Linked DNA regions of Homo sapiens. The protein of the gene in region 1 interacts with the protein of each later gene in a pairwise test. Each region holds a gene or a part of one and is shown in the gene's direction. Other genes may lie near its edges.

Region 1 (4,699 bases):
TAGTTTATAATAGCAAAAACTTGGCAGCATATTTGATCAGCAAGTGACTGGTTATATAAATTATGACACATGCATATAATAAAGTATTATGCAGCTGTTTAAAAAAGATATGGTAGATCTGTTATGTTTTGACATGTAACAATGTCCAGATATATTGTAATATGAAAAAGACAGACAATATGTATAATATGAACCTGTTTTTATTTTAAATCTATATATATGTATGCTCCAAATTTATTTTTCAAAAATAATGAACTTCTGGGGTGGGGGGGAGTGGAGATTATAAGTGTAATAGAAGAGCCAACTTTTAACCTTACTGCTTTATACATTACTGTATCATTTTGGGGTTTACAAGAAGCACAGTTTTTTGGGTTTTTTTTTGGAGGGGGTGTTTGTTTGTTTTTGAGACAGAGTCTTGCTCTGTCTCCCAGGCTGGAGTACAATGGCACAACCTTGGCTCACTGCAACCTCTGCCTCCCGAGTTCAAGCACTTCTCCTGCCTCAGCCTCCCAAGTAGCTGGGATTACAGGCGCCCACCACCACGCCTGGCTAATTTTTTTGTATTTTTAATAGAGACAGGGTTTTGCCATGTTGGCCAGGCTGGTCTCGAACTCCTGACCTCAGATGATCCACCTGCCTGGGCCTCCCAAAGTGCTGGGACTACAGGCACTTGCCGCCATGCCCTCAAGAAGCAGTTTTATAAGCAGAAAGACCAATTTGAATTTTTGGGAAAAAAGTTATTTGACTCTCACTCGTCTTTGACATACAAAGAAAATGTTAAGTATTTCACTTATTTACTAAGTGTTCTTATGTTCACAAGGCCAAATGCTAGTCACTGAGCTATCTTAAGTATGTTTTTATTGTTATATTTGAATGTCTTTTTATTATTAAGGGTATCTGTTGTTTTGTGATCTGAGGTATAAAATTAGTACAGCGAATTTCCATCAAAATGGTTTCACGTAAGAACACCACTCTGTCATTTTTATGTCACATTTGCATGGTGCTTCCCATTTCCTGTGACTTGGTGTGGCACGGTAAGTAGTGAAATTGGAATTTTGTCAAGGTTCCTCTGCTCTTGAATAAAATATCTCTTAGTTTAAACATTGTGTTATATTACACACTGAATCCTGTTCTTTTTCTTTTTTGTCTGACAGTAGAACTTCATGGAGGAACACGGAGTGACCCAAACCGAACATATGGCTACCATAGAAGCACATGCAGTGGCCCAGCAAGTGCAGCAGGTCCATGTGGCTACTTACACCGAGCATAGTATGCTGAGTGCTGATGAAGACTCGCCTTCTTCTCCCGAGGACACCTCTTACGATGACTCAGATATACTCAACTCCACAGCAGCTGATGAGGTGACAGCTCATCTGGCAGCTGCAGGTAGTGTTGTTTGGATTAGAAGCTCTTCTTTAATTTTTTTTTTTTTTTTTTTGGAGACAGCGTCTCACTCTGTTGCTCAGGCTGGGGTGCAGCAGCACAATCATGATTCACTGCAGCCTTGATCTTCCGGGTTCAAGTGATTCTCCCATCTCAGCCTCTGGAGTAGCTGGGACTGCTGATGTGTACCACCACATCTGGCTAATTTTTGTATATTTTGTAGAGACAGAAATGTCACTGTGTTACCCAGGTTGGCCTCAAAGTCCTGGGCTCAAGCGATCCTTCTGCCTCGGCCTCCTAAATTATTGGCATTACGGGTGTGAGTTACTATGCCTGGCCTTTATCACAACTTTTTTAAGCCTTGCAGTTATAACTTGAGCCTGTATTATACTGAGACTTGAGGTCTGTAATCACTTACTATCAGTGTTATGGCTTTGGTTTTATTTTTTCATCTATTCTGCCTATGTTTTGGCTTTAAACTGAAGCATTTATTCCAATTACGTTAAACAGAATCACTGACATGTATTTAGATTTAAATTTACCTTCTTTTCTATATGCTTTCTCTTTGCCCTACCTGTTCTGTTTACTTTTCTCTTTCTTGGCGTTTTCTTTTGTAGTGATTGAAAATTTTGTATTTTTTCATTTTTTTCTTGTTAGTTTGAAAGTTATAAGCTTTTACTATTATCAATACCTGTAGAAATTGTAACATACATCCTTTATTTATCAATGCCTTATGTTGACTAGGCTCAGTGGCTCACACCTGTAATCCCAGCACTTTGGGAGGCCAAGGTGGGAGGATCACTTGAGCCCAGGAGTTTGAGACCAGCCTGGGCAATGTAGTGCAATCCCATCTCTACCAAAAAAAAATTAGCTGGGTGTGGTGACGTGCTCCCTAGTCCCAGCTACTTGGGAGGCTGTGGTGGGATGACTGATCACTTGAGCCCAGGTGTTTGAGGGTGCAGTGAGCTATGATTACACCACTGCACTACAGCGTGAGTGACAGAGTGAGAGCCTGTGTCCAGTTGAAAAAAAAAAAAAAAAGGAAAAGCAAAACGTTGTATGTACTTGGAACTTTTAACCTCTACAGGGATAATACAAATTTCTTAGAACACTTGCATTTCATGCGCCCATCCTATATGCTATTGTTGTCCTTTGTATTCATTTTTGGTATACAGTTGGCTCTCTTTATCTGTGGGCTCCACATCTGCACATTCAACCAATTTTGATCAAAAGTATTAGGAAAAAATTAAAAGTAACAATATAACAATTAAAAATAATACAAATAAAAGGCCAATACAACAACTATTTGTATAGCATTTACACTGTATTAGGTATTATAATATTAGTATTAGTAACCTAGAAATGATACAGAAGGACGTGAATAGGTCATGTGAAACTACTACACCATTTTATATCAGGGACTTGAGCATCTACACATCAAGATGCTAGAAACAATCTCAAGAGGATTTGAAGGGACAACTGTATTTTAAACACCACAGGACTTTTTTTTTTTTTTTTTTTTTTTGAGATGGAGTCTCACTCTGTCGCCCAGGCTGGAGTGCAGTGGCACAATCTTGGCTCACTGCAGCTTCTGCCTCCTGGGTTGGAGCAACTCTCCTGTCTCAGCCTCCCGAGTAGCTGGGATTACAGGTGTGCGTCACCATGCCCAGCTAATTTTTGTGTTTTTAGTAGAGATGGGGTTTCACCCTGTTGGCCAGGCCGGTCTTGAATTCCTGACCTCGGGTGATCCACCCATCTCGGCCTCCCAGAGTGCTGGGATTATAGGCGTGAGCCACCGCATCCAGCGAACAATATTTTTATTTAAAAAATAATGTTAATTTTTTTTCCTGCATCTCCAACTGGTCTCCTGAGATGGTTTTACTTCTGCCTAAAGACACCATTTAATATTTGCTTTAACATGGATCTGCTAGTAACAAGTTCTATTTTTGCTTGTCTGTGAATGTTTTTACTTAAACTTCAACCTTGAAGGATGTTTTCACTGAGTATGGAATTCTAGCTTGGTGGTTATTCTTTCCTCATGTTGAAGGTACTGTTCCACTGTCTTCTGGATTCCATTGCTGCTATTGAGAATTCAGCTATTTCATTCTAACCGCTACTCTTTCAAAGATTATCTCCCACATGGCCTGCCCCCCTCTCCCGGAAATTTTAGCCATGAGATTTTGCTTCTGCTGCATTCCATCTCTTTTCATTCCATGGCTCCAGTTACTTATGTTAGTCTTCCTCACTTGTATGTCTCTTAACCATCTGTTCTGTATGTATCATCTTTCTGTGTAGTTTCTTCTGTCTTTCAGCTTGTGAAAGACAGAAGATTTTCTTCTTTAGCTGTTGTATTAGTCCATTTTCATGCTGCTGATAAGAGATACCCAAGACTGGGAAGAAAGAGGTTTTAATGGACTTACAGTTCCACCTGGCTAGGGAGGCCTCACAATCATGGTGGAAGGCAAGGAAGAGCAGGTCGCATCTTACATGGATGACAGCAGGCAAAAAGAGAGAGAGCTTGTGCAGGGAAACTCCTCCTTTTAAAACCATCAGATCTTGTGAGACTTATTCACTATCACAAGAACAGCATGGGAAAGATCTGCCCCCATGATTCAATTACCTCCCACCGGGTCCTTCCCACAACATGTGGGAATTATGAGAGTACAATTCAAGATGAGATTTGAGTGGGGACATAGAGCCAAACCATATTATTCCACCCCTGGCCCCTCCCAAATTTCATGTCCTCACATTTCAAAACCAATCATGCCTTTCTAACAGTCCCCCAAAGTCTTAACTCATTTCAGCATTAACTTAAAAGTCCACAGTCCAAATTCTCATCTGAGACAAGGCAAGTCCCTCTGCCTATGAGCCTGTAAAATCAAAAGCAAGTTAGTTACTTCCTAGATACAGTGGGGGTACAGGGATTGGGTAAATACAGGCATTCCAAGTGGGAGAAATTGGCCAAATAAAAGGGCTACAGGCCCCATGCAAGTCCGAAATCCAGCAGGGCCGTCAAATCTTAAAGCTCCAAAATGATCTCCTTTGATTCCATGTCTCACATCCAGGTCATGCTGATACAAGAGGTGGGGTCCCATGGTCTTGGACAGCTCTGCCCCCTGTGGCTTTGCAGGGTACAGCCTCCCTCCCAGCTGCTTTCATGGGCTGTTGTTGAGTGTCTGTGGCTTTTCCAGGCAAAAGATGCAAGCTGTCGGTGGATCTACTATTCTGGGGGCTGGAGGACAGTGGCCCTCTTCTCACAGCTCTACTAGGCAGTGCCCCCGAAGGGACTCTGTGTGAGGTCTCCGACCCAACCCCA
Region 2 (4,170 bases), on another chromosome or scaffold:
ACTCCAATCACACTAAATCTTTTATATGAAAGATCGTGCACGTTCGTCCTGGTATAGTGGGAAGGGGACCTGCACGAGGGAAAACGGCTGCCTCGAAGAGGCAGGGACCACGCGGGATGCGCCCGCGTCTGAAGCCAGACCCCCGGCTCCCCGAGGGAGAACAGGACGGAGGGCGGGGCTGTGGGGAGCGGAGGGAATGAAGGTCAGGGAGGCGGCGGGGACCCCCTGAGCTGGCACAGGCCCCGGGAACGTCTGTGGAACAGGGGACGGGATGGGGCGTGGGGGAAGGAGGTGCGGGCTGCAGGAGCGGGGGTGATGGGGTCACTCACGGCGGCGGGACTGGGGGTACTGGGTGGGGGGGTCGGGTGGGGCCGGGGCTGCAGTGGAGGGTGTGGGGCGGGGAGATGCCCTCATTGCCCGCGCACTGGCGCCCGAGCCCAGAGAAGAGAGCGCCGGCTTCCCCGCCAGTGGCCGCAGCACCCCAGGAGCGCGGGAACCTCCGGACCCACAGCGGGGCGCGGCCGGGGCAGGTGGGGGGCCCAGGCGAGGAAGCCCCCTCTGCGCCCTGGGCTGGGCGAAGGGCCCTGCGATGCGACGGGGGCAGCCCCAGCGCGCGCCCAGTCCTCACGTCGCCACCGAGCGGCGCCCCCGCCCCAGCCCGGAGCCCCGCAGGGCCGCCCCCACCCCTGCCCACCCTCCCGCGGGCCGGGGCAGCCCCCCGCCAGCCACCCCGCGTTCCCAGGAAGAGGGACCGGTCATTACTCATTCATGTCCTTTCATTTCATTTCAATATTTTCTGCAAAGTCATCGCCCGCGCCGCATCTGCGTGGCGGGGGGCGGGGTGGGGCGGAGCCACGCCGCGGAGTCGCCGCAGGTAAACAGCCCCCTCCCCGCGGCGGGAGCGGGGCCGCCGGCCCCAGGCAGGGACAGCAGCCGCCGCCCGCGCTCCGGGCCGGGATCCCGCCGCCGCCCCCGCCGGAGGCACGCGCCAGGGCGGGGGCCGGGCTGCGGCGGAGGCGGGCGGCTCCGGTGCCCCCCGCCGCCGCCCCGGCCCGGCCCGCCCGCCCCCTGACCCCGGGGGCGGCGGCGGAGCGCCCCCCAAACCCCGCTGCGGGCTCCGCGCCCGGCCAGCCCCGCACCCGCCGCGCGCCTCCGGCTACTCCCATCCCCCGGAGCCCCCCGCTCGGTCCCGGCGTCCCCTGCCACCCTCTCCCGCGGCCCGCGGCCCCGTCCCCGTCCCGCGCCCCCACGCTCCCCGATCCCCGCCCCCGCGCCGCGCGTCCCCTCCCGCCCGCGCCCCCCTCGCCGGGCCCCGCCCCGCGCCCCCCGCCCCGCCCGCGCCCCCCGCCGGGCCGCGCCCCCCGCCCCCCATGCACCACCTCCTGGAGCAGTCGGCGGACATGGCGACCGCGCTGCTGGCGGGAGAGAAGCTGCGGGAGCTGATCCTGCCGGGCGCGCAGGACGACAAGGCGGGCGCGCTGGCCGCGCTGCTTCTGCAGCTGAAGCTGGAGCTGCCGTTCGACCGGGTGGTCACCATCGGCACCGTGCTGGTGCCCATCCTGCTGGTCACCCTGGTCTTCACCAAGAACTTCGCAGGTGAGGCCGGCGGCCGGGGCGCGGGGCGCGGGCAGAGGGGGCGTCCGCAGGTGTCCGGGAGCTGGCGCTTCCCGCGTCCCCGGCGGCTCCGTCCAGCCGCGCCCACCGTGGCCTGGCTGCGTCCGCGGCGTCCCAGGCACCTTCCACAGCCGCCCCCATCCTAGCAGGTGTCGCTGGTCGCACAGACCCCTCGTCTCTATTTTATTGTTGTTCTTCCTTCCATTCGTCCGCCCATGGCCGCGGGTGGGACTAGGCCTGTCTGGACCCAGGGGTCCCAAATGTCATGAGACACGGGGTCTGGTTTGGAGAATGTCACAAGCAGCGCCTGAGGGGATGCAGGGTGGCCAGGTGGGGACCAGGAAAGGCCGGGATGGGTGTTGACAGCAGAGAGCTGATTACAGGGGCTGGTGGAGCTGCCGGGCAGGGTTCCCAGGCTGGACTTGGGTGGAAGGAGGGCAGAGAGAGTCTCTGAGAGGCCCAGGCCCTCCACCCCTCAGGCAGGGCGAGGCCTCTCCGGGTGCACTGGGGGCCTCCGAAGGTTTGAAGCAGGGGGGCTAGCATGGGGCAGGGCCACGTGTCAGAGCAGGGAGCCTGGAGCTCCTGCAGGGAGATGGGGGCTGGACCAGGGCAGGGACCCGCGCTGGTTAGATCAGGACCTGTGGGGGCACTTGAAGCCACCCAGGCGAGGCAGGAAGATGGACAGAGCAGCCAGCCTGCCTGTGAGCCTCTGCGGGGTGGGGTCCTGGTGCCTCTGCCCTCCCCAAGGAGTGGGGCGAGACAGGTGGAGCCGAGAACTTCCTCCCCTGGGGTCTGGGCCAAGGCAAGGGGGATCAGGGTCTCCTGGCCTGTGTGGCCCAGAGGTACTAGTCTGCAGCGGGGAGGGGTGTTGGGACCCTGGGGCCCTCTCTTCTGCAGCCTCCAAACCTCAGCAGACCCTGCCTCAGCACTGGCGCTTCCCAAATCTCCCAGATGCCTTGCCTTAAGGAGTCCCCGTGGCCTGGAGACACCAGGCCTGAGGGTGGACATTGGCCAGGCTGTCTGATCCCACCCAGGGGTGGAGGAGGCCTCTGCTGGTCTCCTCTTCGACACTGGAGGCCAGACCCCGGGGATTAGAGGACCCCTGGGGTGGGCACACAGCACACTCTGCAGAGCAGGGAGCCCAGGCGTGCGGTGGGGCCTTGGGGCAGGCCCAGCATGTCCAGACACCACGTGTGTTCTCTGTGTTTGTAGCAACCAAGTACCGCAAACTAGGCAGTTTCAAACAGCAGACATTTATCTCTCATGGTTCCGGAGGCCAAAAGTCCAAAATCGAGGTGTCGGCAGGGCCCTGCTCCCTCCCACAGCTCTAGGAAAGGGACATTCCAGCCTCTTCAGCCTCTGGTGCTGCCGGCAATCCTTGGGCGCCTTGGCTCGTGGCCGTGCCACCAGTCTCTGCCTCTGTCTTCTCATGGGCTTCTTCCCTCCCTGTCTGTGTCCAAATTTCCTTTTTTTTTGAGACAGAGTCTTGGTATGTCGCCCAGGCTGGAGTGCGGTGGTGCGATCTGCAACCTCCACCTCTCGGGCTCAGGTGTTCTTCCTGCCTCAGCCCCGAGCCCCCAGTAGCAGGGACCACAGGCATCCCACACCACACCCAGCTAATTTTTGTGCCATGTTCCCCAGGCTGGTCTCAAACTCCTGGGCTCAAGTGATCCTCCCATCTCAGCTTCCCAAAGTGCTGGGACTACAGGCGTGAGCCACTGTGCCCTTTTCTCTTCTTCACCACCCCCCCGCTTTTTTTATTTTTATTTTTTGAGACAAAGTCTCGCTCTGTCACCCAGGCTGGAGTGCAGTGGTGCGATGTCGGCTCACTGCGACCTTTGCCTCCCGGGTTCAAGCGATTCTCCTGCTTCAGCTTCCCAAGTAGCTGGGACTACAGGCACCCGCCACCACGCCTGGCTCATTTTTTTTTTTTTTTTTTTGAGACAGAGTCTCGCTCTGTCACCCAGGCTGGAGTATAGTGGCGCGATCTCTGCTCACTGCAAGCTTCGCCTCCTGGGTTCACACCATTCTCCTGCCTCAGCCTCCCAAGTAGCTGGGACTACAGGCGCCCGCCACCATGCCCGGCTAATTTTTTGTATTTTTAGTAGAGACGGGGTTTTGCCATGTTGGCCAGGATGGTCTCGATCTCCTGACCTCGTGATCCGCCCACCTTGGCCTCCCAAAGTGCTGGGATTACAGGCGTTGAGCCACCGTGCCTGACCCATTTTTTGTATTTTTAGTAGAGACGGGGTTTTGCCATGTTGGCCAGGCTGGTCTCGATCTCCTGATCTCAGGTGATCCGCCCGCCTCGGCCTCCCAAATTGCTGGGATTACAGGCATGAGCCACCGCACCCGGCCCAACTTTCTTCTTTAAAGCGGAAAGGAAGCGAGCGCTCTGCCCCCGAGCACCCTCCCAGGAGCCTATGGGCTGGTTCCTCTTTTTGGCTTCATCATCCTTGGAGGGCCGAGCGCAGCCCCTGATGCCGCAGGGCAGGGTTGGGCCTGAGGGCCCGTGTGGCCAGCTGCTGTCTCAGGATGCAGTACCCTCGAAGGTTG

Evidence for each region. Proteins that work in one complex are often made in the same cells at the same time.
Region 2: the proteins of NRF1 (region 1) and PANX2 interact in a two-hybrid assay, tested with the Homo sapiens proteins (one large-scale study listed by BioGRID).

What each region holds. Positions count from the first base shown.
Region 1 is NC_000007.14:129,656,189-129,660,887, forward strand, and holds part of NRF1 (nuclear respiratory factor 1), read left to right. Parts: intron 1-1,154; exon of another isoform or gene 1,155-1,157; 5' UTR 1,158-1,163; coding exon 1,164-1,386; intron 1,387-4,699. UniProt on the Homo sapiens protein: Transcription factor that activates the expression of the EIF2S1 (EIF2-alpha) gene. Links the transcriptional modulation of key metabolic genes to cellular growth and development.
Region 2 is NC_000022.11:50,169,361-50,173,530, forward strand, and holds the start of PANX2 (pannexin-2), read left to right. Parts: upstream 1-1,370; coding exon 1,371-1,596; intron 1,597-3,899; exon of another isoform or gene 3,900-4,170. UniProt on the Homo sapiens protein: Ion channel with a slight anion preference. Also able to release ATP. Plays a role in regulating neurogenesis and apoptosis in keratinocytes.